5 separate regions of the Homo sapiens genome follow, and all the other regions are linked to region 3. Evidence: fine-mapped expression QTL. A gene starts in region 3. Each other region holds a variant in brackets. All regions are shown on one strand. Distances are between the middles of the regions.

Region 1 (6,201 bases), 440 kb after region 3:
TTAGTCTAAACATTTCTTGCAGGGTCCTGGAGCAGCAAAGTGACTTGTCCAGGCTTGTGTAATTGAATGATAACGGGGGAGCACTGTGTCCTGGCCCTCGTCCACTCTCTTCATCCAGGGAGAGAAAGTCTTATAGAGGGCCCCGAGTTCATCCTTTGCTCTCCCTCTGGGCTGTACCCAGTTGGGTGCCTACCTTTAGAAAAAAATATTTGTGAAGGTAGGTTTCATGATTTCCTTTACTAGCTCATTTTTTGGGGGTGTCCAGATTCCTGCAGGGATGAAATTTTGATGAATTATTGTATTCCTGTGTCCCCAGGATAAAAAGGAAAAACTCTTCAGGAGCAAGAAGGAAAAGAAACATTCACTGGGAAGAAAGGCTCAGGTTGCAAACTTCTCTTGCTTATTTATTGAGGTTAAAAGTTAAACTGGATTAGGACAATCATATTTTTCTGACACATTGAATTTCTTCTTAAGAAAACATATTTAGCTTTTTTTTTTTCATGAATCATTTCAGTCGAAGAGCCAGGAGTTATGTTCTTATGCTGGGTAGAAACACTGAAGGCCCCTTTGTGAAGGACTTAGCTAGCTACATGTATTTATTTGGCTCATTTTGTTTTTCTCCCTGGGTTAAATTTTGACTTAAATATTTGTATGTGGAGCAGGAGGTAAGGCAGTCAGGCTCATTTTTGTGATTTTCCACAGATAAAATTAGCACTAAATTTATGGGCATAGTGGCATTGTTCTGCAAGCTGTGGCCTGGAAGGTTTTCTTGTGGTTGTCACCATTTCCTCCTCTCCCAGTTTCCTCCAACTATGCTTTCTCTGGGTTCCCAAGAACTGGCTCACTTTGTGCTGGTGAGTGAGATGAAAGAGGGCTGAAAAGCAAACTAAGAGCTGCCCACCTTCTGAATAGCAACATCATGATACTAAGAAATCTCCCCCTCAACTAGACTGCCATTCTGCAAAGCCTCTTTATGCCATGACATATGTGAACCTTCATTCCAAGTGATCTTTCTGTCTGCAGAGGTCCACACAGCCACTGGATGTAGGGATTTCCCACTGACTTTGTCAATGTCTTGAAGTTTCAAGTACAGAGCACATTTTCCATTTAGATTTTCATTAGAATGTAAATAAGGCTGGTTTTTGAACTGTGGATTAAATTTCACATCCACCTACCGAAAATGGCCAGACATTACTTACCATGACATCTTCTCCTTTATAATGGGAAAATGAAGGGGAGCAGGAAAATTCCTTTATTGTTTTCATCCTGATTATAATAATTTAGAAAATTAGACAAATATAAAGGAGAAAGTAAAAATTTTTGTAATCTCACCACTGAAAAATAATGTTGACATAATTTTGGTTTGTATTCTTTTAAAAAATGGGATCCTACTATAAATATTCTTTCTGTGACTAGCTTTTTCAGTTACATATATATTGGCCTTTTTGTATGTCAATAAAAATAAATTTGCATTCTTACCAAATGAAGAACATTCCATATATAAATGTACCATTTGTATTTAATTAACTCAGTATTGATTGACAGTTGGACTCTTCCCAATTTTCACCAAGTAGTCAATCCCTGTGGTGAAAATCTTTATCATATCCTGTGCTCTTTTCCAATCCATTGCTAAGAAGTAATTCTTAGAAGGGGAATTTCCATGTCAAATGATTTGTACACCACTAAGGCTTTTAATACATGTTACTGTATTTCTTTATAGGAAATTTTTACTGACTTAGACTGTCACCAACAAATGCACAAAAGTGACTTGTTGCCATCATCTTCATCAGTTGTAGGCATGATCACTCTAAAAACCCTTTCTTAGTCTACTGGGTGAAAGTGCTGTATCCCATTATTACATGTTAATTTGAATTTATTTGTCAGTGAGATAGAATATCTTATTTTCTATTTGACTGTGTTATGATGTAAATTCTCTTTTCAAGTCTTTGCCATTTTTTCTATGGGAGACGATTTTAAAAATTGATTTGTGAGAACTCATGTATTAATTGTAGTAATCTTTTGTCTATCAAGTATTTTACATATTCTGTTTCTAATTTTGTGTATAGTATAGTGGGTTTTGCTCTACAGAAAATTTCATTCTCATGTAGTTAAATCTAAAATGTTTTTCATAATGATTTCTGCCTTTGGGTGCCATGCTCAGAAATTCTTCTAAACTAGTTTTTTAAAGTAAATGCACAAATAGGCACAAGCCTCCTTGTGCATGTGAATAGATTAGTAATAGAAGGGTCTTCAGATTACTAGAAGGCTTCAGGCTGAATATTTTTTAAATATAGAATTTACAGAAATTTTTACTCATGGAAATTTACTGATGGTAAGTCTATGCAAGACAAAAAAATCTGTGATTCACAATTATGGATTTGTAACTGTGATTATAATTATAATTTGTAATTTGTGACTATAATTTCTTAGGGATTATCATATTTAAAATAATCTTTGCTCTGGCATTTGGCATTGAAAGCCATCTATTCTATCAGTCTTTATTCCATGCCAAGATATCCATTTTGTTTTTCCTGTGAGTAATAAGTTCAATAGAAGTAAGGCCGAGTAAATAAATAATATTGAGAAGCACAATGCTTACAGTTCTATTTAAAGTGGTATAGTGTCATCATAACAAAAATCAGTACATTTATACTTCATAAACTAATGATGTTTAAATTATCTTAAGTATTATTTTCATAACTTACTAGGGTTACAAAAAGTAATAGATTTGAATTTCCTCACAAGCTTCAATTAATCCAGAAATCTCAGTTTTTAACCAACAGAAGGCATAATCACAGTTTCTCTCTTTCTTGAAAATATTATAAATGTTGTAGCTAATTGAGGAAAAGAAGGGAGAATAGAGGAGAGGAGAGACATAATAAAACAGACAGGAAGAACAGTATAGACATTGGTATTTTCCGTATGGCCTCATTCTTTAATTCTGTGCAACGAACTCATCTCCAGGGTACAGGACATCAGAATTCAAAATGTTCAAAATGAGCTAGGTGTTAAAATCTGACAGCAATTCTGAAAAAAATTGCATAATATTTAGATTAAAAAAATCATTTTCGGCTGGGCGCGGTGGCTCACTCCTGTAATCTCAGCACTTTGCGAGGCCGAGGCAGGCGGATCACCTGAGGTCAGGAGTTCGAGACCAGCCTGGCAAACATGGTGAAACCCCGTCTCTACTAAAAATACAAAAATTAGCCAGGTGCAGTGGCAGGTGCCTGTAATCCCAGCTACTCAGAAGGCTGAGGTAGGAAAATCATTTGAACCCGGGAGGCGGAGGTTGCAGTGAGCCGAGATTGCACCATTGCAGTCCAGCCTGGGCAACAGAGTGAGAGTCCATCT[C/CAA]AAAAAAAAAAAAAAATCATTTTCTAGTCAATCAAAATAAGATCCTTTTATCTTCCTTATCAGATTTGGAAGGAGCTTCCAAACCATCGAGGGCACAGCATAAGCACACTTGATGTCAGAGTTATCCATCCTGCCCTGGCCATCCATGACTGCCCACCAGTGACCCTGCCCATCACTGACTGCCTGCCAGTGACCCCGCCCAGCAGTGACTGCCCAGCAGATACTGCCCACCAGTGACCCTGCCCACCAGTGGCCCAGCACAGGTTTCCATTTGCTTTGGTCATCTTTCGGTCTTGCAAATCTTTCTTCCTTTCTCTCTTTTGCTATATTATGATCCATTAATAAAATGCCACTAGAAAATTTTCTGTGAAAACATTTCATAGTTTAGATGCCAATCTGTGTAATTTATTCAGATTGCAGATAAAATATTCAGTATCTTCTGCTGCATTGCATATAACCTGGGTTCCAAGTCAAAGACATATTAAAATTGTGATTATAATTATAATTTGTAATTTGTGATTATAATTTCTTAGGAATTACTAGATTTAAAATAATCTTTGCTCTAGGAAAAATTAAGTGTAAAATGCTATATGTAGGATGAATGTATTTATTATCCAAACCAGGAGATCTTTGAAAGTGAAGGGATGGAAAGGACTATCAATAAGTAAGCCAGAATAACAGAAATAAACTGGAAGTGTCCCAGGCAAGCTAGGGCGTAGGATCCCCTTGTTTGGAAAGAGATTTTAAAATACCATGTGTGGATATTGTCATCATTGAATACAAACTGCTCTTGAGATTTTCTGTTTAAATGGATCCCTTTTAAAGGCTCTGATATCTTAAGGAAGGAGGAGATAATAGATGCTATATGCAACTCTATTATCTGGCCATCTTTCATTGAATTGTAGGCTTCCTAAGACGTAATTTGTTTTACTTTTTTTTCAAAAGGTTAAGGAATAAACAGCTTAAAAAATGGCAGATTTATAGAAAGATACCACCACTGTAAAGGCTTTTAAAGCCTGTGTTTATGCTTTCTTCAATTGTGTGTTTGCTTATTTTTGATGATTGTGAAATATTTGTAAGTATTTGGTTATTGACTCACTGGATTAGAATGTAGTTTGTATATGGTAAATACAAAAAGCAGTAATAACTACGGGGCACTATTAATAAGCAGAAATAATAATAGTTATTCCACATATATTATCTTTAATTTTTATAAAAACCTTGTAATGTACCGTTAGCCCCATTGTATAGAGAAGAAAATGAGGTTCCCTAGCTCGATGAAGGCCACAAAGTTAAGACTAAACAGGCTGACTGTCTGAATCTAAAACCCACGATCTTCACTACACGTTGTCTTTTTCTTAAGAAATATCTTGAGATTGTCCTTGTCTAATGTCCATCTTCATCTCCAATTTTTTCTGGGATGATTAAAGACCCATAATTACAGTATAATATTATTCCTAGCTTTAGCTTCTACAACTGATGGTTGTATGCCAGAGACAGCAGTGACGTTATTTACTCAATCGCAGTAGTTTTGGAGGTTATAATGGACTAAAATGAATAATTTTTTCCTAAACACACTGCATCGCTGCTCATTCCATTTCCCATAATGGCTAACTGACTTGGTAGCCAGTGTCAACCACTTCTTACATATTCTGGGCTACTGTATCCCACAGCCACAGCATCTTCCTGAGCCCTATTTAGATAACAAGTAGTAACAGGCCCCTGATTACTGTGGAAATTGTTCATAGGAACACAGGTCTAACGAGTGGTAATGACACATGGGTGAGCATAAACATCATGCCATTGCTTTTACGTAACAACAATAACCTCACTCACGAAACCTGCCTCGGTGTGTTTGTATCCAGGAGGCAAGCCAAATCAGTCTCCTACAGGACCTGAGATCCAGGAATATTGGGAACAGTGGTGCTGAAAAATCCTAGCAACTGTTATCTGTATTCCCATAAAGACGGACCTATAATCCACCTGCTACTACATTCTAGAGCCACTCTGAAGTAAAAGGGTATGTTCTTGGTTTTAAGGTATTTGCAATCTACCTGAACGCAAAATTGACCTTTTTCAAGTTGCTTTCTTTCCACATCCCATGAAATTTAGCATGCTGGATTGAAGCATTTCTTAGAACGCGTTCCAGTTGTATTTCTCTTTCTAACTTGATCTTCTCGTCTGCCTATCACATCAAACATATCAACATTCTCCTGATCCTAAAAAACAAAACTACAAAAATTATAATAAAAATTTCATATTCCTTTAACAATGCCTCCACTCAAATTCTTGCCTTGTATCCAACTTTCTATTTTTATTTTTACAGACAGGGTCGTGCTCTAACCTTGAATGCCTGGGCTCAAGTGATCCTCCCACCTTAGCCTCCGGAGTAGTTGGAACTATAGGCATGCACCACCACACGTGGCCTTTAGCTTTTTATTGATGTTGTCATACATTTTTTATACTTCTTCTTTTATTTAAAAATAGTTTTAAGGAATTTTTATTTTATTTTTGAACAATCCCAGCCTTTTAGAAATTGTGCAAGTATGGTATAGAGCACTGTTTCTTCCAGAACTACTTGAGAGTAAATTACCAACATTACCCTTAAATACTTATTATTTGGGAAAGAGACCTCAATGATGTTTCATCTTCGTCTTTCCCAGAGCAAGAAACCACACTGCTGTATTCATAGCTCTGCATTTGGAACTGCCGAGCCCTAGGTGTGTATATCTTAACTTTACTAGGCAATGCCCAAGTGTTCTCCAAAGTGTCTCTCAGACTTTCTGAAATAGTCTTGTGGCCTCCACTTTTCTCATCAACAAATCTCTCTTAAACTCCAAATAGTGGGCT
Region 2 (6,201 bases), 61 kb before region 3:
ATAGTTATAGAAGAGGAAAGTAGAATCAAAAGGCAGGGAGATGAGATGCCAAACTCAAATGCAAACAATGAGAGCGGAATCTGAAATACGAGATGAAGCCAATACCCAGAAGCCAGACACAGGATAAGAACCGAACCAGGTTAGAAGCAAAGCAGAGGGCTTCAAAATGATTTCATCTTACCAAAGGATTTCTCTTCGTAGTGACAAAAATGTTTTCTAATTATTGCCTGTTATGTTGGATTGTTTCCTGTTTGCTTTGTCAGTTTGTGAATTGGGATCTCATGAATCATGATCATTTCATTGTAATAGTAGCATCAACTAGGATAGGACAATTTATGTCAAAAAGGTCGGTGTAAGACATATTCAAATACTTTCATGGCTGTGAACACTTAATATAATAAAGAGGTTCTTGCGGACAGGTGCGGTGGCTCACACCTGTAATCCCAGCATTTTGGGAGGCTGAGGTGGGTGAATCATGAGGTCAGGAGTTCAAGACCAGCCTGGCCAAGATGGTGAAACCCCGTCTCTACTAAAAATAACAAAAAATTAGCCGGGCATGGTAGTGGGCACCTGTAATCCCAGCTACTTGGGAGACTGAAGCAGAGAATTGCTTGAACCTGGGAGGCAGAGGTTGCAGTGAGCCGAGATCACACCACTGCACTCCAACCTGGGCGACAGAATGAGACTCCGTCTCAAAAAAAAAAAAAAAAAGTTCTTTCTAATTTTGTTTTCCCTTCAGCATGATCCCACGCCTATCTCCAAGAATACAGCCAGAAAAATACATCATTCATTAAAGAGTAAAACATTAAAACAGTGCGACATGGGTGCATAAATAGACAGACTGTAGAAACAGAGTTTTAAAGTCCATAAATAAATAATATACTTACAGCAGTTTAGTACATTATAAAGATGGCATCAGTGGGGGAAAAAATGGTCTCTTCAGTACATGATGTTGTTATAGGAGAGCCATCTTGAGGGGACAGATGTTGTATTCATATGTTTTACCATAAGCCAGGATAAACTTTAAACCAATCAAAGATCTATATGTTTGAAAAAGAAAAGAGGCTGGGCACAGTGACTCACGCCTGTAATCCCAGCACTTTGGGAGGCCGAGGCGAGTGGATCACGAGGTCAGGACTTCAAGACCAGCCTGGCCAAGATGGTGAAACCCCGTCTCTATTAAAAATACAAAAATTAGCTGAGCGTGGTTGTGGGTGCTTGTAATCCTAGCTACTCTGGAGGCTGAGGCAGAGAATTGCTTGAACCTGGGAGGCGGAGATTGCAGTGAGCCGAGATCTTGCCACTGCACTCCAGCCTGGATGACAGAGCGAGACTCCATCTCAAAAAAAAAAAGAAAAGAAAAACCACAAAAGTAACTTAAGAAAATATAGGAAAAAAACATGGAGAAGACCACAGAAGAAAAGATTGACATATTCTGCTACATCACAATCAAATGTTCTTCATAACAAAAAAAAAAAAGCGGGGGGGGGGGGTCATAAACAAAGTCAAGTAAGAGGTAAACTGGAAAAATTGCCACTCATATTAAAGACAAAGGGCTAATTTCCCTAACATATAAAGAGCTCCTTGAAATGTATAAGAAAATGACCACTCAGTAGAAAAATGGGCCAAGGCAATCAACTGAAAAAAAACCTTCAATATATTAAAAAAAAAAAAAAACTGCTCAACTTCACTGTAAAAGGAATGCAAAATAAACATACACAAACCCTTATCAGACTGGCAAAAATCCTAAAAGGTAACAGAAGCTTACATTTTATCAATTATAAAACTAAAGCTCATTGAACTAGATTAGGCAGCCTAAGTTTAAACAATAATAATGTCAAGAATAGATGTGTCGTTTGCTAATAGCTTTATACTAAAATAGTACCACTACATGTGCTTAGCCAGGTGCAGTGGCTCATGCCTATAATCCCAGCACTTTGGGAGGCCAAGGCTGGAGAATCACTTAAGGCCAGGAGTGAGAGACCAGCCTGAGCAACATAGTAAGACCTCATCTCTACCAAAAATTTAAAAATTAGCTGGGTGTGGGGGAATGCCCCTGTAGTCCTAGCTACTCAGGAGGCTGAGGCGGTAGGATGGTTTGAATGAACTGTGATCACACCATAGCACTCTAGCATGGACAACAGAGCAAGACCCTGTCTCTAAAAAAAAAAAAATTGAAGTGGAATTTTCTTGGTTCAAATTTACCATCGATATAAGTTGGATCATTATATAAGCCAAACATAATAAAATTGAAAATGTGTTCTAAATGTTATTTGGGTACCCACTGTAGCTGTATTATCCTAATAAGAATTTTACAGAATTTTGCTGATCTTAAAGTGTTCTTTGCCTGGATTTCAGAAACTGCTAATATTTTTTGTACAGTCACATTAACGAAAGTGGTACTGTGACAACACCCCAAACTGGGGTGATCTTAGGATAAAGCAAAGATGTGAATTTCCCTTCTAATCTCCTGACCACTAAACCCCCCTTTACCTTATTTATCTGTAGAATAGTGCTAGATTGTTTTGGAGGGGATTTTTGCTCTTATTTTATCTTCATGCCAAAGATAGAAAAGTTGTGGCTAATAAAGAGATGTTCTTTCAGATAGAAAGTTTTTCTTTTCATAGGCTTTCCCTTCTACTTATCTTGGTAAGTAGAACAGGAGCTGAAATCTACCATAACACCATACCCATTTGACATCAAATCAATAATTATATACTTCACCATAGTGGAGCATATAAATGAAACAACATAATCTTGAAAGCAAAAAGAGTCCCCAAATGGCCCAGATAATCATATATCAGATTGGCAATGTCTGCAAGTATATGCATTCTCATGTACATTGGCCAAGCCAGGCCCACTACTGCAGAAAGGAGAAAGGATTCTGACACCATTTCTTCTGACACGTCTCGCAACCCTAAAATCTATTAAGGTTATATGGCTTAAACTCAGCAACACTGCTTTAAAATACTCACTCAAGTTAGATGGTTCTAAATAGAACTAATGACAGCCAGAAGAGAAAGGCCTGTAGGAACTTGCTGTGACACAGAGCTGGTGTCTATAAACAGATTAGTAGAAGAGAGCAGAACATTGTTCTATCACCATAACTTTCGTGTTTTGGCATGAAGATACAATAAGATAATAGGAAAAAATTACCTGTTACATAGCCTACCACTGTTCTGTTCTGATAAATAAAGATTAAGAAGAGTTTAGCCTGTCATCTCTCCATATACTTGTATATGATGTATCAATTTAGTAATTAATCATAAATACCCACTAGTGTTATGTACTAAAGATTTGTCTATGGATATGAAAGACAAATACACTTGGGAGCA[A/G]GAACGGGTGAAATTTTTGATCTCTTCAAAAAGTTCATCACAATTAATTCTTAGTTCAAAGGGCAACTGAAGCCAACCCCACTTATCATTTGTAAAAGGATAAGGGATAATACAGCTAAAGAAATCCTGAATCTGTATTAAACTTACTGTTTAACTGCTGACTAGTAGCCAAGATTGGATTCTTTTTCTCTACCATCTTTATATAAGAATTCAAAGGAAATGCGACAGTTTAAAAGAAGAAGAGAAAAAGTTAAATGCTTAAATAGTCTACTCAGCGAATATATGTGGAGCATCTACAGTGGAAGGTAGCTATGCCAGTGGTTCCCAAATTTGTCTGTCTATTAGAATCACTTGAGATCTTCAAAAATTCCAAAATACAAAAAAATTAGCTGGGCGTGGTGGCATGCGCCTGTAGTCCCAGCTACTCAGGCACTGAGGCAGGAGGATGGCTTGAGCCCAGGAGGTAGAGGCTGCAGTGAGCCGAGACCACACCACTGCACTCCAGCCTGGGTGACAGTGAGATCCTATCTAAAAAAAAAAAAAAATTCCAAAGCCCAGGCCACACCACATCAATTATCTCACAGTCTCTGGGGTTGGGACACAGTCATCACTGGCAATATTTGAAGCTCCACAGGTGATTTCAGTGTGCAGAAAAACGTGGAAACCACTAGACTATAGAATGTTGTAATTGTCAGTTATATTAAATGAGTATTAATGATCAAAAGATTCATGTGCATGATTCTAATTACTATTTTATTTTCACAACTTATGTGTGTAGTATAATTGTTTCTTCTACTTAAAAATATTTTAATATTAATCATTATTAGTCTGCTTGCTAAAATCACTCTTGCTACTTTCTTCTGTTTTCATATATCAACAGGAATTGGCAGCAATGAAACAGATTCTCGTTAAGATGCATAGTAAACATTCTGAGAACAGCTTACTTCTCACTAAAACAGAACCAAAACATGTGACAGAAAATCAGAAATCAAAGACTTTGAATGTGCCTAAAGAGCATGAAGACAATATATTTACACCTAAACCAACACTCTTTGTAAGTACAATTTTTAAAACTCATAATTTTAATATTCCTGATTCTTACTAAATGTATTTTAGTTAATTTTTTCCTTTTACATTTATGAAATGAGTAGATTCCACAAATATGTTTCATGAAAAGACCTTGAAGGATTTGCATTAATCCATTTTCTAAATGTGTATATTACCTATCTTATAGATGATAGTATATTTTACTGTAATTCCTCATAAAGTGTGAAATCAATTAACATAAACTGAAATGCATTGTTAGCTAAAAATATATGTGCACAGAAATTAAAGAAAAAGAAATAAGAAAAATTTGGATTAAAAGGTAAAATACCAAAAATATGTACAGTTATTATGTGCCAATTTTTAAAAATAGAGAAAATAAATTAGGAAATATTGAAAACTATATATTTTAACAAATAATAAGAATCAAGATTAAAAGGCAAGAGAATTAAAATAGGAGTAACATTATTAAATATTCCATTTTACTTCAAATGGTTTCTCAATCATGCTTTCATTTCTCAGGAGAAACATGATTTTTATCTGCTAAACATAGAGACTCAAAACCAGAAAGATTTTCTCTGATATTCTGATTCAGTGAGTCCCCAGAATCTTAATTTTTTTAACTCCCAAGTTGAATATAATAGTCAAATATGAGAACTTCTGATCTCAGTCATTTTATTATACATGCAGATAATGCTACTGAAGATTAATAGGATGAAAGAGATTTTTTAGTGATTATATAATTCAACCTCCCTTTTTAAAAAAATGAAAGTTGCAGTTTAGATCAAATAAGAGACAATTGGGCAGACATGGTGGCTCACACCTCTAATCCCAGCACTTTGGGAGGCCAAAGTGGGAGGATCACCTGAGGTCAGGAGTTCAAGACCAGGCTGGCCAACATGGTGAAACCCTATCCCTACTAAAAATACAAAAATTACCCGGGTGTGGTGGCACACGCCTGTAGTCCCAGCTACTTGGGAGACAGGCAGGAGAATTGTCGGTGCGATGGCACCACTGCATTCACCACCTTGGCGAGAGAGTGAAACTCTGCCTCAAAAAATAAAATAAAATAAAATAAGGGACAATTATTTTAAGGATACGTGTGGCAGTAATGTAGACTAAGCTGACAGGCGGGAGAAAACAGGATGGCTCAGTTGACTAGCCTGGACACAAGGCGGCTGAGTCCATGCATCTTTTCCTCTGTAGTACATCAGCTTCTCTTTGTTTCTCCTCTAGTTTCTGCTTACTCATGTTTTCCACTTCCTCATTAACTTGCTCACAGCCCTTTGTCTTGAAACAGGTTTCTGTACATCCTTTCTGCATCTACTCTCTTATAATGTAGTTCTCCCTGTATTTTCCAAGACTAACAATCTAATTGGCATAGCTAATTCTTGTTGGGTGATACCCCTTTTTGGCAAGACTTCCTAAGCTTATTACCCAGCCTACAGAATGGCTGCCCTTAATGGTGAGCAGGAGTCACACAGTTCCAAATACAGCTGCCGAGGACTGTTTATTAAGGGCTATGGCTAGGCAGGTTTTGCTCAGAGAGTGGGCAGAGATTGTGGCAGACACTATGCTGTGTCTATTATAATCTATAGGAAGAAAGCAGATTGAATACATACACATTAATGGGAAATAGGGTCAGATGAAAACCACAAGATACAGCTGAATACTTAAAGCCTGTCAGCACTCTCTGATCTGCCTTTCTGATCCTACTCTGCTCCAGGCAGTGGCACTATTCCTTCTGACCCTGACCTTCTGCATTTCTAGCTTTAGCTTGGTAACCTGATTGTGATTTTCTGGAATACCGGCTATAATCAAT
Region 3 (6,201 bases):
AGTTTTAAGTTTTCACTGATACAGATTCTAACAGGGGTGTGCAATCAATGACTACCAAAAAGTCACTTTAATTAAATAATCTTACCCTAGAGAAGAGTGTGCTCCCGTATAAAGCTTTATTTTTCATTTTTATTCTTGTTCTTTTTTCTGTGGCCCAAGATCACTTGGCAATTTGATACTGATTTGGCAGAAATAAATATTCTATGAATATTTTTCTACTCAAAGTGAATACAGTTTTGTTGGCTGTGATACTCTATACCTCTTAATTTCAAGCTGTGACGTTTTTGCCAAACAACTGAATTTAGATTTGCCAAACAACTGAATTTAGATATTCCTTTTGCCGTGTCGTTGTGTGAACATTGCCCTAGTGATAGCTTCATATTTCCCTCATCTCATCATTCAGAAGCTATTTATCTATTTTTTTCCACTGCCTCCTTCAAACCCCCTCCCCCAACATTGAATGCCTGTTCAGCCCCCGCATATTCATCCGTATTTATTCCCGTAAAGATAGTGACACTTATGGTTTATTCTAAGACTAAATCTGTGTTGCCCAGTGACTAAGGACTTAAGCATGCACACTGCTTCTATGCTTACCCTCCTACCTAACTTGACTACTCAACATTTTTATTTCATTCCCTCAGAATCCCCTGTTTTGGCACAGTTCAGTTAACACACCACTGCCAGGCCACTAATTGATTTCTGAAACCTGACATTTGTTTTTTGTTTTCTCCTATCTTCCCTAATGGTACAGCACTACTAAGCGGGAAGGAATGCAAAGAACTAGAAAGTTCAAAGTAATTGAGGATCTGTCCATTCACACTGTCTGGCTTCAAGCCAATGTAGAACCTGGAACATTTGAAAAATATTTATCAAGTTTTAACCCTTTTTACTAAGTCGGTGAAACAGGTTTGCAGCTGTAGCATTTATGTTAAAAGCAACAGCAAGGAAACTTGGTCGAACATGTTCTTTATATGTTCAGAATCACATGGCAAATGTCTCCGAAAAGGATTACTTTCCAATTTCCGTACTATTGTACAGTGCTAAGCTAGTTATTTTCTGTGAGACTGCAGAGCAGGGCATTTCAGAGAAACTATTACTTAAAAGTGGCAGCCCTATTTCATGAATCTTTATGCCCAAAATGGAATTTTAAAACCTGCTACTGTATTGGAGCAAAAAGGAATATATTCAGTTACTATAAGAACCCCAACGCTAGCTTCATATCTATATTATGAAAAGTGGAAATATGAAAAATTAACAAGACTAAAAATATTAAAAACTTAGTTGTATGGTTTTTTTTTTGCAATGAAAAAGCTTTTGTAAATGAAAGCATGTTAAAAAGTGGTGTGAAATTATAGAAGCATTTCCAGTAAAATACATGGATTTTATTGCAGTGAAAACTTAGGTTGAAAGACCGGGCCACTGAAGCTCTCGTAAAAAGACAAAAGGAAAGGTCTAGATAGGTTTAAAAGCACATTAAGATACAGCTACCGAATGTATTAAATCTAAGTTAGATTTAGCTTAAAGTTACAAGAGCACAAAAGTTCTATTAAGAATTATCTACATCACATTTAGGTTTGATGTTATCAGAATTAAGTAACTAAAAATCTTTCAAAGCTCAATTTTTTAAAAGAGTTACATTAAATCCCATCCTAATTCTATAATCTGTTTCTAAGCTAATTAATTACATGATAGGTTTTACATTAGAGAAAAGCAGGACAGCTTTTTAAAGATGAAGATGGACAGCATGGGGCTGCTTGGTTAGAGAAAAACTTGCAAAAGCACTTATTAAATAATACTTTGATAACATGAAAGTAGTCATCAGCCATTCTCTGAAGGCAGTGATCACAGCTATAAAAATGAATCATGTGTCAACAGGAAGAGAAGGAAAAGGAGAAAAACCCAGTTTACAGCATAATTTTATATTTTCTAATAATAAATACATTTCTTTATGTGCATATTAATTTTCTACCCATTGAAAATGAGATCCATACCTTTGATAGATACACTCTTTGAAGTGAACGTTTTTATCCAAGACTTTTTTTTAAAGCTGTTTTACTCTGAAGTGATGAATAGGCTGTGGTATATGTAAAACTGTCTAATGGTATATTGTGTGTCAACATATGTACATTTGTAGTAATATCACAGGCATTTTTATTGCAGTTTATTGTTCCGTCCTCCCAATAAGCCAGATAAAATCATGTACAAGAACATTAAGGATTAAGGGAAGTGGTTTCCTTAGGTGATTGCTGGCAAAAATTCACCCTCCCATTATAACAACATAGTAAATGGATGGTAATATATTTGGCTATTACTTTCCAACAAATTTGGATTCCCAGTTTTCAGAGCTGCTCTGTGTCTATGTTTGCGGCTTTTTGATTGTCTCTTCGTAGGAAAAGGTGCCACAATGTGAGGTAAATGTGCTAGGTTTCTGCTTTGTAAATATTAAAGTCCATTTTTTGAACATACAGTGCTAGCAAAAATAAGTCAAAGATGTAATGTCTATTTAAATACACGTTTGAGCTAGTCGTGCTTAAATTAGATTCCATGCTTCGGCTAGAATCAACACGGCTTAAATATTAGAAACTTCAAAATTCATATGGCCCAAGCCCTCCTCCCCACACACGGATGGGAAGTAGAAATGTGTGGGAAAACGTCTAGCAATTAAAATCCTGAAGGAGTGGGAAAAACCCAGGCTTTTATGCAAGGATCTGAAAAAACGCTTGCCATCAAATCTTTTATTCAGGCATTCTGAATTTGCCTTGTTAAACGGATACACTCACTGCTAAAGATACACAGGGACAAGAGCTGTTTTAAATTTGTTTATCACACCGCCCCTAGTTTTCTGCTAAAGAGAAGTACATTTTGGATATTTAAAAGTACACACTCATTAGACAAATCTCTAAAAGCCTCAGCGCCCCTACCTAGCTGCCTTCTGGGTTTCAGCTTTTGAGTTTCAGGTCCTTGCACAACACCTAAGACGTGCAATACTCTTTTTCTTCCTAATCCTGGCAGAGAACAGTGCGAAGAGATCTCCCTCCGCGTCTCCACCCTAATTCCCCCTCTTCCCAGATTCCACCCGCTCCGCTACTTCCCTCCGCCCCCGGCTCCGCCAGCCCAATCTGTCAGAGAAGTTGTGTACAAACTGCGCGGCCGCCCTGCGCGCGAAGCTCGTGGCCCGAGAGGGGTGCGGTCGGGCCGACGGAGGCGGGGCCCTGGCTGCCTCTCTCCCTGCTCATAGGCTGGCCGCTCAGGCCTGGCCGGCCTCGGGGCCTCGGGATTCGCGGCGGCGCTGCCAATCAGGCGATCGGGCCCCGCCCCCCCGGAGTTGGGTGAAATAGAGGCGGGCGTCAAGTGTCAGTAGTCGCGGGGCAGGTACGTGCGCTCGCGGTTCTCTCGCGGAGGTCGGCGGTGGCGGGAGCGGGCTCCGGAGAGCCTGAGAGCACGGTGGGGCGGGGCGGGAGAAAGTGGCCGCCCGGAGGACGTTGGCGTTTACGTGTGGAAGAGCGGAAGAGTTTTGCTTTTCGTGCGCGCCTTCGAAAACTGCCTGCCGCTGTCTGAGGAGTCCACCCGAAACCTCCCCTCCTCCGCCGGCAGCCCCGCGCTGAGCTCGCCGACCCAAGCCAGCGTGGGCGAGGTGGGAAGTGCGCCCGACCCGCGCCTGGAGCTGCGCCCCCGAGTGCCCATGGCTACAAGGGTGCTGAGCATGAGCGCCCGCCTGGGACCCGTGCCCCAGCCGCCGGCGCCGCAGGACGAGCCGGTGTTCGCGCAGCTCAAGCCGGTGCTGGGCGCCGCGAATCCGGCCCGCGACGCGGCGCTCTTCCCCGGCGAGGAGCTGAAGCACGCGCACCACCGCCCGCAGGCGCAGCCCGCGCCCGCGCAGGCCCCGCAGCCGGCCCAGCCGCCCGCCACCGGCCCGCGGCTGCCTCCAGAGGACCTGGTCCAGGTAGGAAGAGCCGCTCCCCTCCCACCGCAGCACTCCCGGGCTCGGGCGTGTCCCGTTGCTGCGACTCGCGGGCGACAGGGGCCGCTCCAGGCTGGGGCGTGCGTCGGGGCGCACCGGAGCCGGTGCTGGGTGGGCAGCCCCGCCCTGCACGCCTGGCCGGGGCCCCGCGTTTCGCTGAGAGTAAATGGGGGGGGGGGCCGGGGGTGGGAAGGATGGAGGGGAATCTGCCCCGGCGGGTCGGCCTGGGAGAGGTAAGAGGGAGGGAACTGGGTGCTCACGCGCACCTTAGTTGTTTTTCTTACACTTGAGGGACGAAACCTTGTACCTTACGCTCAGTTTTACTTAAATTACGCCTTCGCCTGTACCGCTCTCCAATGCCAAGGCATTGGAGCCCTCCCCCCCATCCCCATCGTCTCGGGTTAAGTAGAAACGCAAATTGGGGTGCTGGGGAGAGGTTCCCCAAGGTTTCATACCCGGTGGCTCAACCTGCTTTAGAAGCGATTGCGGGCCGCGTTTGGAAAATGAGAGTTAGGAAAGCTAAGGTTGTGTCGGAGCGCTTATTTTTCCTTAAAAAAAAAAAAAAAAAAAAAAGACCGGGGGTGTTGTTTTCTTCGTGTGCACGTAAATTTCCTCCCGGAGCCGCGTTGAAAGCTGGCAGTTGGCTTTTACACTTGCCCAGCAGCCGAATTAGAGCAACCGCCTGTTTCTTTCGCCCACGCAGGGAGTCATATAGCCCAGAAAAAACTTCCCGGGACTTTTAGCCTGTCCCAAGGAAAAAAAAATTGGAAACATACCCACATGCAAACAGCTGGAAGAGCTAAAATCAGAAACCACTAACCGCCGCGGGAGCGCAGTGCACGAAAGGGTTTAGTTCAGTTTATTTCAAGACACTTCATTTAGTAGCTCTTTGGCGTGTCGTATATTTGCTACCCAGCGCCTACTCCGTGGGGTCTGCCAGGGTCTTGCTGTGAGAGGGCAGTGGCGTTTGTCAGAGATGTGACTCACATGATGAGAGCGTTAATTTTTATTTTTAAATCATGTCTATCCGGGAAACCCCGTCCGCATCCACACCAAGGTCCGAGATGAAACGCATTTGAAATGAAGTAGTAGCAGAAAATGACTGTCTTATTTACCTGTTAAGGTGCCACAGCTAATATATGCGCCATTCCATCTAGTTGGTTTTCTTATCTTTCGAAATTTCCTTTTCAGTGTTAAAAAATGTAGGCTTAAGTTATACTAGGAGAGAAGATAGCTGGAAAAGGCTTGAGGCGACTTGTTACAAGCTGGTTTATAGCCTAGAAAAGAGATCACCGTTTGAAAAGTATTTGGTTATTTCAGTTTGTCAATTTTCTGCTCTGGAGGCACTAAGAAGATAAGGGATGACTGAGCTTTTTACAGAGTAGGGGGGAATGTAGCATTGGCCCACTGAGAAGGACATGATAAATGTTTTGCTGATGACTGTGCTAGGGATACAGCAGCCTCCCCACCCACGGGCTCCTTAGCAGCACTCTACCAAGGGAGTGATTTTCCCCTAGGTAATTAAAGATCTGTTTTAGATAGGGATATGAATAGGAACATTTCATTATCATATTAACCAATTACAGGATCTGCTGATGAAAATCAACATTTAGATCAAATATTGAATGTGAAATTGTTTTGTTTCAGTGGATACAAGGTTTTGCTTAGAACGTTGTGTTTAATTTCTCATTGAACTGTAAACAAGAAAAGACACTGAAATAGCCAAATAATATTTTTATATTACTTTTGAAGTATCTAGTCAAGAAAAGAAACCTGTGCAATATTTTAAAGGTTTGCATCGTTTTTTCTATTAAAAAAAACCACGCTTTTTAATGTTTGTGACTTAAACAGAATTGAGGTAGTTTGGCAACATTTCAATACTGTACTCTAATTGCAAACTTAACTGTGTAATGGGGCAGGGAATCCTGCTTGTACAGGGGTGATGGTACCTTGTTATTGCATCAGAATGGAATGTTTTAAGTTTGCTTTCTTTTTTATTCTTGATTTGCGTCTTTCACTTTTGGGGGTGATTGGGGGAGCAGTTTTACCAGTTACACAGAGTTTCATAAGGTTTTGGTCAACCAGTTATTACACAATCGACAAAATAAGCCTGATATGTTTATAAGCAACACTGAGGAGTTTGCCCTAGTACCTTACACAGGGATTGGGGGAATTTTTAGTAGGCGCCGATTGTTCGTTCTTCCCGAGATGGTGAATCAGGTGGATTATGCATTTTATAT
Region 4 (6,201 bases), 240 kb after region 3:
ATGGGAGAGAATGGCCCACAGAGTCAAGTGCAGTAGAAGGGCAGGAATGTGTGGCATTACCTGCAAGGAGTAGGAGACGGCCTATGATAACACATGCTAACAGAAGTGCAGACCATGAAGTTTGGCTGCAAAAGATAAGGAGAAAATAAGGCATTATCCATTAGCAGAGGGCACATGATCCTGGGACAGTGCCATTGCTGTTGCTTCAGGATGAGAGGCTTCAGTCTGCTTTTATACTGAGAGAAAGGATTAAGTAGAAACAGACAGGTTCATGAAATAACAGAGGAGATATTGTTAGAGAAAAGCTTCAAAGGAGACCAAAAGGGAGGACAAGGGCCAGTGAGGAGGGCTGTTTTTGAACTTGATGATAAAATTACAATTTGCAATTATAAGTTTATTTAAATGTTTACTTATTTATCGTTTTTGTCACCAATTACAGAGTAAGCTCAGGAGAACTGGTTCTATTTCTGTTTTATTTAAATCCTTGTGTATCTAGTGCCTAGTGTACTTGTTAAGTGCTCAGTTGATTTTTGCAAATGAATCCGGTGAATTAAAAAAATCTTTCATTTTCTGAGGCTAAAGGAGATTTCAAAATACTGGATCAGACATTCCAACAAAAATTATAATAAATATAAGCATACCATATAAGTAGTAAATCATACTACAATCTTTAGTGATTATTTTTATTCACAGAATGGTATTACACAGACTGCAATTCAACCTTAGGAGGCTGAAATTATGCCCTCAGAATATATATACACATTATTCTTTCAATTATTTCAATAATTGCATGCTAAAGGAGTGGTACTGTTTTTACTGAAGAGAAAAATCAGCAGTTTGCCTAAGACAGTCTCAAACCCAGTAGGTGGTAAGGTAGGATTTGAACCCCATTTGGTTGGCTTTCAAAGTCTAGATTTACATTCTCCCAAAGATGCTCTGTAGATTCATAGTTTTCAGTTATTTCTGGACATTTTGATGTTTCTTTGTACTGTAAAGTATTTTTCAGATGACTGACAATTGGCTGAAATGCACACTAGAATGTAAACTCCGTAAGGGCAGGGATTTGTGTGTGTGTCAGTTTTATGCTCTGCAATGTGCAGTCATTTGTAGGTATCCAAGGGGAATTGGTTCTAAGACACTGTTGGATACCAAAATCTGTGAAGGCTCAAGTCCCTGATATAAAATGGTGTCGTATTTGTATATAACCTGTGCACATCCTCCCATATGCTTTAAATCACCTCTAGATTACTTATAACACCAAATACAATGTAAATGCTACATAAATAGTGGTTATATTGTATTGTTTAGGGAATAATGACAAGAAAAAAAGTCTAAGTATGTTCAGTATATGTTCAGTACAGACACAACCATCCAATTAAAATAAATATTTTTGGTCTGTGGTTGGTTGAATCCACAAATGCAGAACCCACAGATACAGAGGGCTGGCTGTATTCCTAGCATCTGGAGTGATATCTGTGCCATGGTAACTGCTTAACAAATATTTGTCGAGTTGGAGTAAGAATGAATAAAATACTTTTGAAGGAGCTCCCTTCTTCTAGGTTAAGTTTTGAAGTCTGCTAAAATATATGCTTCTAGGGGTGGTACTAGTTTCCACTCTTGCTGTTCGTTGAATAAATAATGTCAGGGTAGGGAGGAGAAAAAAAATTGAGGAGAGGGCCTAAGGACACTGAGGTGTGAATGAGCATGGTTTGGTGGATACAGTGGTTAATTTTACGTATCAACTTGCCCAGGCTATGTGGTACCCAGATGTCTGATGAAACTATTTCTCTGATGGTGTTTCTGGAAGAAATTAGCATTTGAATTTGTGGATTGAATAAGGCTGATGGCCCTTCCCAAGGTAGATGGGCATCATCCAATTCATTAAAGGCCTGAAGAGAACAAAAGGCAAAGGAAGGTTGTCTCCCTTTGTCTCACTGCTTGAACAGGGACATTGATTTTTCCTGCCATCAGTGTTCCTGGTTTTCAGGCCTTCAGACTCAGACTGGAATTGACACTATCAGCTCTCTGGCTCTCAGGCCTTCAAACCACACCACTGGCTTTCCTCTTCCTTCCTTAATTGGGGAGGATTGTGGGACTTCTCAGCTTCCTTAATTATATGAGTCAATACCTTGTAATAAATCTCTATCTATCTATCTATCTATCTATCTATCTATCTATCTATCTGTCATCTAGCTATTTACCTACCTACCTACCTCTCTATCTCAGTTCTGTATCTGTTTCTCTATTTATATATCTATCTACCTACCTACCTACCTATCTCAGTCCTGTTTCTCTGAAGATCCCTGACTAATACAGTGGAGTTCATCTACTCTGAAGTTTGTCCAAGGCCCAGCATACACTGCCGGTCTTGTTGTAGCTTATCATTAACCATGCCAGTGAGATTTTAACTATGGGTGTTTGAAAATGGTTGGCTAATACTAATCTCTGATCCAATATGTAAGAACATAGTTACTTAATAAACTTCAAGTTGTAATTCTCACTATAATAGTTATGATGTTTATTTACAAATAAAACAAATTAATATTTCAAATAAGTGATAGCAACCAATATATATAAACCTGCCATGTATTTATATCAGCATAAGACAGTTGAATATTTACAATGATTCTTTTGCTCATTCGATAAATATTTATTTAACATCTTCTATGGGCCAAGCACTACCTTTAATGAGAAGTACACTACTATGCTATTGCTTGTAGACAGAGAATGTTTGATCTAAAAATGACTTTCAAGCACAGTAACTAGGAACTAATTACTGGTGCAGATTATTTGAAGCTAATTTGAATTTAGTTTAAATGCAATGTATCTGCGCTATCCTTGTTCCCCACCTAACAAATGACTCTATTAGTGGGGGAATTCACTCAGACTCTCACAGTTGGTATAAAGATTATTTTATTATTATTATTTT[T/A]TTTTTTTTGAGATGGAGTTTCACTCTTGTCACCCAGGCTGGAGTGCAATGGCGTGATCTCGGCTGACTGCAACTTCTGCCTCCTTGGTTCAAGTGATTCTCCTGCCTCAGCCTCCTGAGTCGCTGGGATGACAGAGCCCGCCACCATGCCCAGCTAATGTTTTTGTATTTTTAGTAGAGACAGGGTTTCACCATGTTGGACAGGCTGGTCTCAAACTCCTGACCTCAGGTGATCCACCCACCTTGGCCTCCCAAAGTGCTGAGATTACAGGCATGAGCCACTGGGCCTGGCCAAAACCATCCTTAAGTTGATATACAAAAATCTTTACTCTGCATTATTCTGTGAGTTACTCATTGCTGAGCAACTCCCACATGCACATGTAAATAAACCTTGTCTTTTCTCCTGTTAATCTATTTCCAGTTAATTTGCAGGCCCCCAAGCACTGGACCCAAGTGGTAGAGGAAAAGGTTTTCTTCCCAACATTAGTATATTTTTGCCTAGTGATTCACAGTAACTGTAGGTTTTTAACAATATAGTATGGCAATTCCAAGTTGTCCTTAACATTTACAACTTTCACCAGTGGTTATAGATGATAAAACATCCCAGGAACATAGTGTTTAACACTACCAGGCTTGAATACTGACTGATCCACTTACTAGCTGTGTAACCTTGGGCAAACAAATCAATCTTTCTGTGCCTCAGTTTTCTCATCCATAAAATGAACATAAAGATAGTACTTATTTCATGGAGTGGCTAAGAGGATCAAATAAATGTAAAGCACTTAGATTAGGGGTAGATGTATAGCAAGGGCTCAGTTAAATATTATTGTAAGATCTCCATACGGGCAGGGAAGGGGGTCTTGACCACATCCTATTCTGGAACTCTCTAAACACCAGTTATCCCCTGGCTTCAAATTACATTAAGTTGCTTCCAGGTCTAAGGAAACATTTCTGAATTGATGTTACTGTTGTGGCAAAGAATGTTCTTTTTTTCAGGATACTAATGTGTACTTCTCTATGATGTTTTTTATTTTTCAAAGTAGTTTACGGTTTCTGAATATTTTGGGATCACTATGGAAACTTGTAAGGTTTTGAACCTTCATAACCAACCCAAATGCCAGTACACTTTGAAAGGTTTATTAGTAATGCAAGTGTGAAGCTACCAGTACTGTAAATAATTACAATAATGAAAGCAATTATACACACTAAACAGCTCTTGCAGGCCATTCAGTTTTCCAGAGCTTGGCTTTGACAGGCTAGAAAGGTGGAAGAAAAGAAAGATAGAATAATCTGTTTCTAAGTGTACAGAATTTTGCTAATCTTGCTTATCTGAAGTCATAGTCAACACTCATACAGTTTTCATAGTGATAATAATGGCTATCATTTATTGGTTACTTAAATCCTTGCCAATCTTTTTACAGACATTATCTCTTCTGACCTTTAATACATTCAATAAGATAGACGTTATTAGTTCTGATGAACAAATGAGGAAACTGAGCATTTTAAGGCTAAATTCGTGTATCTAGTAAGTGGTGATGGTTCTGTTAGAAGTCACCTAGGAGTATCTAATTCTGAAGTGAGACTTCTTAACCACCACACTGAACAGCATCCATGGTGATGGTGTTCTTTCAGCATTTAGATAGCTTCTGTAGTTCATCTACAGACAGACTACACTTGGAGCCATATTTTAATGCAACAAAAATGTTAAAAATGGGCATGAGTGTATGTCTATATATGGAATATCAATATGCAATAATAATACAAAGAGCTTCACAAAAACTCCTTTATTTTGGCAAAAGGAAGGTATATTAATTTCTCCTCCTTGTTCTCATTCTCCTCCTTCTTCCTATTCCAATTACCACAACTACAATTCTCCTCTTCCTCCTTCTCCTTTTATTTTTTATTTTTATTTTTGACATAGAGCCTTGCTCTGTCACCCAGGCTGGAGTGCAGTGGCACAATCACAGCTCACTGCAGTCTTAGCCTCCTGGGCTCAAGCTGTTCCCCCACCTCAGCCTCCCAAGTATCTGAGACTACAGGTGTGCACCACCATACTTGGCTAATTTTTTTTTAAGAGATAGGGTCTTGCTATGTTGCCCAGGCTCATCTCAAACTTCTGGGCTCAAGCGATCCTCCTGCCTTGGTCTCCCAAAATGTTAGGATTACAGGCGTGAGCCACCATGCCTAGCTCCTCCTCCTTCTTCTTTTTTTTAACCACTCCACAAAAAGATTAAAGGGACATGAAGAGAGAATATCACTCTGGTTTCAGAGGTTGACCAGATGATACGGAAAGAAATAACTTGCTAAAGCAGAAATGCTTTCAACTACTCTGACGTTCACACGCTTTGCTTTGCCAGCATTCGTAGTTACCTGCATCTTTTTTCTAAAAAATCTCATAGGCTTGTCAGAAAGTTGTGACTCAAATATACCCAGATATATTGAACGGAGAGTGATTAATTTAGGCCTTGCTTATTTGGTGCTTACTTGCTTCTTTTTCCTGTGATGAGCATGAGTTTTCTGAGTCAGCGACTGTGTCCCTCTGTAGTAGGTGGGTGACCTGGCACTTCTCTGCTGAATCAGAGGATGCTGCATGCTCACGTTTCCTGTGGGCTGAGTGAATACATGAAGCTCTATCATGCATACTTCTTATTCATGCAACACTTCAGGTAACAAGCAGCAGCAAACGTTAATTCCCAGGGAATGCCAGCAGGACGATTCACGTGGAGGAAATAGTTTGTGATAAAGATTCATCTACTGCTAAAGCCTCTTATTCCCCTTCCAAGCTTGTTTCTTGTTTAAATATTGCTTATGTGGAAAAAAGCCAGTGATATTTTGAGGCTTTTTTTTTTTTTTAAGTAGAGGTGATTCTAATAGGATCAGCAGAAATGGTGATTCTAATATGATCAGCAGAAATCGTGAAAGACTAATTTGGGTTCTGCTTGTTACAAAAACATCTGTGTGATTTCTTTTTCTGATAAGCACATTTGATTGTGGGTATTCCAGAAAATTCTGATTTTTACATTTTAATGCTCTTGGTAGATATTTATTTAGTGCTTATTGCAGGCAAAACTTTGTACTAGACACCAGGGAGGAAGATTATTGGAAGAAAAGAGAAAAGAGACGCAAAGATGACTCAAACAGAGACTCAGACCTCAGAAAGGAGGCATCTCATACACACGTTATCAGAAGGGGAAGGTGTTTAGTCTCTGATATGGGCTAAATGTGATGGGAACTGCTCTACAGTTTCCCAACAAGAATCCTATGGTTAGAAC
Region 5 (6,201 bases), 200 kb after region 3:
CACTAAATGTATGTCAATGCCTGAAATAAATGATAAAATGTCCCTGTGTATCAACCTAAAATCATTTTATAACGTGGAATGGAGATTCACTTCTTACAACTTTCTAGTAGAGATGGCAGGGAAGGAATCAGAATTAGAGGCCAAATCCAAAGACTACCTTGAATAAAAGAGTTATGTAATTAGCATGTTCCTATCTCCACTTAAGTACAGTCTTCTATTTTAAGAGGCCATTAGGTGTCCATTGGGATCAATTAATGGCCTCTTGGAATGGCTTCACGGCAACTAACTAGGGTGTCACCACCACAGTATTGTACGGTATTGACCTGAATGGCTTGAAACCTGTCTCACTTCTAGTATCACCTACAGTCCTGTCATTTTCAAGCCTCAGGTCTTCTGAATGTGTGAGTCTCAAAGCTAACCTGAAAATTTTCTAGGTAAATCTTAGTGTTGGTCTTGATAAAGAACCAAATGGGCCTTTAAGGGATGCTTTGATGATGGAAGATAGGAGTATGCATGAAAAACCGAATTCCACAGATAACACAAGAATTGCATTAAAGTGACGTCTCGCCTTTCTTCTAACCAGAGTTTTAAGTCACAGCCAGCTACTGGAAATAATTGTAGGCTGGCTTGAGCTGGCAGTGGCAGGGGATGGGGATTTTTGATCCAGTGTGTTTAATGACAGACCACTGGAAATGCACATGGACACTGATCAGTAAATAGTGAGCTGGCAGAACTGTCTTTTTAAGTCTTTAAGACGTTTTGGGGCTGGGCGCGGTGGTTCACGCCTGTAATCTCAGCACTTCAGGAGGGCGAGGCAGGTGGATCACCTGAGATCAGGAGTTCAAGACCAGCCTGATCAACATGGTGAAACCCCATCTCTACTAAAACTACAAAACTAGCCAGGTGTGGTGGCACATGACTATAATCCCAGATACTTGGGAGGCTGAGGCAGGAGACTAGTTTGAACCTTGGAGGTGGAGGTTGCAGTGAGCTGAGATCATGCCATTGTGCTCCAGTCTGGGCAACAAGAGCAAAAGTCCATCTAAAAAAAAACACACACACATTTTGGGAGGGTGTCTGGTCAAATGTGGAAGTGTTTCTTTTCCAGGTGGGTCATTTAGTTGAGTTGGAATGCCCCAAATGTAGCCATCCCTCATGGTACATCTAAGGGAATCTGTTTCTCTTTCAATGAGCCTTTCCTTGGTTTATTGCAGGCCTCTATTGGAGCTACTAACCAAAAAATGAAAAGGAACTAGACCCAGAGAGGATCAAATGTGTAAATGCCAATTCAGAGAGGTGAGCAAAGCAGGAAGAAAGAAAGAAGGAGGGGAGGTCAAGATGAGAACTCTGCTGACTCCTGATTCTCCAAGGTACAAATTCTCTGCTGTGTTACCTACCCAGGCCTCTCTCCCACTCCTCTCTTGCTTCTGACTGGAAATAGGGAATTGGAGGAACATGTCTTGGGAAAGATGCCATTGTGTGCTTAGGCTGAGGCAGTCCCAGAAGGCTGGAGCTGGAGGATAACGTCAGAGGTCCCTAGTCAAGTTTCCTTACTATATAGATGAGGACTCAAGGCCCAGAAAGGTGGAGGGATGAGTGGACGTCTTTAAACATGTCCAAGAGAAAACAAATGACTTTGTTTAGTTTTCTGATCCCAAGTGGGAGGAAATAATTAGGAAAAATATTCCAAACATTTAAAAAGCTGTCTCTTAGTATTTGTTGATGATGCATGTTATGTTTCATACTGAATTTGATGCAGTGGTATAGAAAAATCATGGGCTTGAACACATTTCCTCAACAGACAAACTCAACACATATAAAACAGTCAGTCAGTGGTGTCAGAAGCAAGGGTGAACATGGATGACCACACTCTGAAGCTGATAGTTTGCCACTCGAGAAGGGAATGGCTTTCCTCTCCAGCCTCCTGGGGCTCACAGGCTAGATGGAGTTATACAGGGATTCACCATGTTGATGGAAAGGGAGATCCTCTGGAGCTTGTAGTTTGTGGAGGTGGGAGAATCTTCTCCCTTCAGCTATTCCAGAGAGGCTGTTGCTCATGAGGATTTGGAGTCTTGAAATGGTTACAGATCATTACCTGAGTCATCAGGAAGGATTCCCTGGATTATTCTCTCTTCCTTCTTCCTTTTCTATTTTGTCCTTATCACATCGTGGCTCAAGGCTTTCTAAAAGACCTGTTCTGATTTCAGAATCTATCGTTCATGATCTTTCTCAATGTTTTCTTTTCTTCTTTTGCTAGTTGGATCACATTCAGCTTTGATCTCTCATTAACCAGAAATTTCTATTCTTTTGACTCATTCATTTCCTTTAGCAGGAAATTAAAAATGAGCCACTATTTTATCAGGTATAACCTGTACATGATTTTCTTTTCTTTTCATCTAATGTTTAAGTTGTTCTCATCTATATTTTAGATTTACAGTGCCTGTTTCAGGCCTATTTCAAAAAGGAGATATTTTATTTCTTAATTAGAAAGGCTTTTTATTTCTGAGCATAACTTGAACATTTTAGCATTAATATCCTTTTGCTTTTCTGAGTTGAGGACTTAGTACTTTATAGTTATTTAGAAATATATGATTCTTTGCTATTCTTTATAAGTGTATTTTGTTATATAAACTCATATACACTTTTTAAATAATTTCTTTTTTTCATTTATTATGTGTTTTGAGCCATTATATTTTATTTGCTAATATCAATTTTGCTATTGTTATGGAATACCTCTAAAGTTCAAGTTTTGGATTTCCAAGTGTGACCTCCAGTTGTCTTGATGAGAGAATATACATTATCTGTATCCAAAATGTCACTCAGGGCCAACTGGTCTTTTGATATTTGGCTTAAATACCTTGTCCCATGTGCAGTGAGAGACTCAGTCTTTCCAAATGTCTCAAGTCATTGAGGGGACAGGGCACCTCCATTTCTCCTGGCTTCTTCTGGCCCTGGGGTCCTTCTTCTGTGGATTAGTGCAGTTCATGGTTTACTCACATCTGTGTGCTGTTCCTTTTATGCACTGTGCACCCCACACAGAACATCATCCAAGTCCTTCCTGTCCACATTCTCAGGCTGTGTGTATGGCAGACATTCACTGAAGTTTTGGGGCAATGGAATTGTTTAACTAAAAGAAGTTTAAATTATAGCATCATTAAAATAAAGTAAAAAATGGCTGGGCACGTTGGCTCACACCTGTAGTCCCAGCACCTTGGGAGGCCGAGGCAGACAGATCACCTGAGGTCAGGAGTTTGAGACCAGCCTGGTCAACAGGGCAAAATCCTGCCTCTACTAAAAATACAAAAATTAGCCTGGCGTGGTGGCAGGC[G/A]CCTGTAGTCTCAGCTACTCAGGAGGCTGAGGCATGAGAATCACTTGAACCTGGAAGGCGGAGCTTGCAGTGAGCCGAAACAGTGCCACTGCACTCCAGCCTGAGTGACAGAGCAAGACTCCATCTCAAAAAAAAAAAAAGAAGAAGAAGAAGAAGTAGATAATATTGCAGCTCTCGAAAATTTTTGGTCCTTAAGAGCTTCTTTCTCACTGTCTACTTTTTTCAGCAAGCTGCCTGGTTTGTAATACTCCTTTATTCTCTATTCCTCAATCCCCACCCCTTTTAGTGACATTTTCCCTCTGGTCCCCTCCCCTCCCCTCCCCTCCCCTCCCCTCCCGTCTCCTCTCCTTTAGTTTCCTTTCCTTTCATTTCCTGAGAGGAAATCTCGCTCTGTCACTCAGGATAGAGTGCTGTGGTGTGATCTTAGCTCACTGCAACCTCCGCCTCCTGGGTTCAAGCGATTCTCATGCAGCCTCCCGAGTAGCTAGGATTACGTGGACGTGCCAGAACACCCGGCTAATTTTTTAGTAGAGACAGGGTTTCACCAGTTTGACCAGGTTGGTCTCCAACTCCTGACCTCAAATGATCCACCTGCCTCAGCTTCCCAAAATGTTGGGATTACAGGTGTGAGCCACTGTACCTGGCCAAATCTTGTTATTTCTTATACTGAGAATTCAGTTCTCTAGGTAAGTCCTGCCTTCCATCAAGGCATAATTTTAAGACCTCAGTTTACACCCAGTGTTTCATGTAGGTATATTCCCAAGACTCTTTTTCCCCCTTTGAAGAACTCTAGCATCTGTTGTCAGTCCTCTGTGTCAACTCACCTCTCATCTCTCCTTCCAAATTACATGAATTTAAATACAAGGAAGCCATAGTCTCTTTGAAGAAACCTTTTGATAGTCTTACTGTTTTAAATGCCTTGTCTCATTTCATTTGAAAATATTTTAATATTATGCCTTATCTTACATAAAAAATCCCCACAAAAATGATGAAAGCTATATATGTTGTCAAATTTAATACAAATGTATATAAGTGAGAGCCAAAATATCAGATCAGCTTTTACAAAAATTGTTTGTCATGTATTATTTCAAAAAGTTTTACCACATTGTTGCATCAAACTTTGTTCCTTTTTTTCCCCTCTGGTGATTTGAAGTTATACATTCCATTTCTATCTTTTATGGTTAGGGTCAACTTAAAATATATATGTAAACCTAGTTTTTAGTCAACATTAAGAATGAAGAAGTATGAATTTTCCCTGAGCTAAATGAGAAATTTAACACACCTCATCAATTTCCATATATTGTTGAAACAATTTGAAATTTTAGTTCCAGATTACTATTATTTTATATAACACACTTTCATTTTTTCTTTTCTTCTTCTTCTTTTTTTTTTTTTTTACATTGAAACAGAGTCTCTCTCTGTCGCCCAGGCTGGAGTGCAGTGGTGCGATCTTGACTCACTGTAACCTCCCCCTCCTGGGTTCAAGCGATTCTCGTGCATCAGCCTCCCGAGTAGATGGGATTACAGGCATGTGCCACCAGGTCTGGCTAATTTTTGTGTTTTTAGAGATGGAGTTTCACCATGTTGGCCAGGCTGGTCTTCAACCGCCGACCTCAGGAGATCCACCCGCCTCAGCCTCCCAAGTGCTGGGATTGCAGTGAGCCAGAGCTTGCAGTGAGCCGAGATAGTGCCAGTGCACTCCAGCCTGGGTGACAGAGTGAGATCCCGTCTAAAAAAAAAAAACCCAAAACAAACAAATAAAAACCTCCTCAATTTTATGTGTGCCTTGGGCACCAAATGCATGCCAGGGCAGCCAGTTTCCTCTACGTTGGCCAACCCTGCCTTCGATTCAGAAATGACAAACTATGGCTGATGACAGGTCCTCCTTACTCTTCATGAATGTTGACACTGGGTCTGAAGCTTGAACAGGTCTTGAAAGTGTTCTATTGATTTCTGTGGTCCGTCCTTGCCTGGAGGCCTCATCTGATCCAGAGGGTCTTGGTCTGGGTCTGGGTGGAAGGCAGACCCAGTGGGCTTCTCCTCTGCTAGGTGGCTGGTGTGCTGACACTCACCATCAACTGTGCTGTTTGTTGGTAAAACAGCAAAACTCTAGTTTTCCCTTGGATTATTACAGGAGAAATAGGAAGTGACATTCATGTGCTTAGGAAACCTGCTAGTTTTAGGTTTGTGTCTTGAGCTGGCACTTGTATTTACCTTTCTATGCTTTTCTCCCCAACACTTCCCATATCTGTTGATTTTGTTTTCTGCAAAAGACATGGTAGGGTAAATAAAAAAAAACGTGAGACTCGTCTCCAGGAACCTATGTCAGAACAGTTAGGAGCTCACAAGATAGCTGGGGAGAGCTGATGACCACACAGGAAGCATCACACAGTGGAAGGAAGCCAAGAAGCGGAAAAGCTGAGGTCAAATTCCCACTCCATCGTAAGTTGTGTGAACTTGGATAAGTCCCTTAATTTTTCAGAGTCATATTTCTGATTTCTTCTGACAAAACAGGTTTTTACTAAGGGCCACACAGTTTGGCAGCAAGGAAGACAGAAAATGAAAAGAAACAACTACCCACTGACTAGGGAAGCAAGTCAAGCACACCAAATAATGTAAGAACACTGGTGTCCTGCGTGACCAGCGACCACTCTGTTGCACTCCCATGAGGTCAGGGAATGACAGAAGATAGAGGGAGAGGAGGGATGTTATTTAACTTTCAGGCAGTGAGCCCCCAAATACACTGTTTAATACTTGTTTTGATCTTTGATTTCAGTTTTAACATAGCAGATGGGACACACATTTGGCAAGAGTGAGAAAGGAAAGTTCTGGAACAGGTGGGGCAGCTGGCCAGCATTCAGTAGCCACACTCA

The links. PIP is the estimated chance that this variant, and not a neighbour inherited with it, causes the effect. A credible set is the group of variants that fine-mapping cannot tell apart.
Region 1: its variant is the best candidate, but not a certain one, in a credible set for the expression of KLF5 in Th1 cells (Schmiedel 2018, PIP 0.62).
Region 2: its variant is the best candidate, but not a certain one, in a credible set for the expression of KLF5 in whole blood (TOPMed, PIP 0.70).
Region 4: its variant is the best candidate, but not a certain one, in a credible set for the expression of KLF5 in whole blood (INTERVAL, PIP 0.89).
Region 5: its variant is the best candidate, but not a certain one, in a credible set for the expression of KLF5 in whole blood (INTERVAL, PIP 0.81).

What each region holds. Positions count from the first base shown.
Region 1 is chr13:73,492,521-73,498,721 of GRCh38, forward strand. No RefSeq gene overlaps it. Among named protein-coding and RNA genes, the nearest start is that of LINC00392, 69 kb to the right of the region's middle. The variant C/CAA (reference allele first, on the strand shown) is at 3,352.
Region 2 is chr13:72,994,607-73,000,807 of GRCh38, forward strand. It overlaps PIBF1 (progesterone immunomodulatory binding factor 1), which reads left to right. Exons shown (of 18, transcript NM_006346.4): 17 at 4,216-4,389. Among named protein-coding and RNA genes, the nearest start is that of KLF5, 61 kb to the right of the region's middle. The variant A/G (reference allele first, on the strand shown) is at 3,336.
Region 3 is chr13:73,055,646-73,061,846 of GRCh38, forward strand. It overlaps KLF5 (KLF transcription factor 5), which reads left to right and starts at 3,360. Exons shown (of 4, transcript NM_001730.5): 1 at 3,360-3,943. The coding sequence starts at 3,683. RefSeq lists silencers at 3,104-3,713, 4,034-4,123.
Region 4 is chr13:73,298,546-73,304,746 of GRCh38, forward strand. No RefSeq gene overlaps it. Among named protein-coding and RNA genes, the nearest start is that of KLF5, 240 kb to the left of the region's middle. The variant T/A (reference allele first, on the strand shown) is at 2,930.
Region 5 is chr13:73,252,884-73,259,084 of GRCh38, forward strand. No RefSeq gene overlaps it. Among named protein-coding and RNA genes, the nearest start is that of KLF5, 200 kb to the left of the region's middle. The variant G/A (reference allele first, on the strand shown) is at 3,329.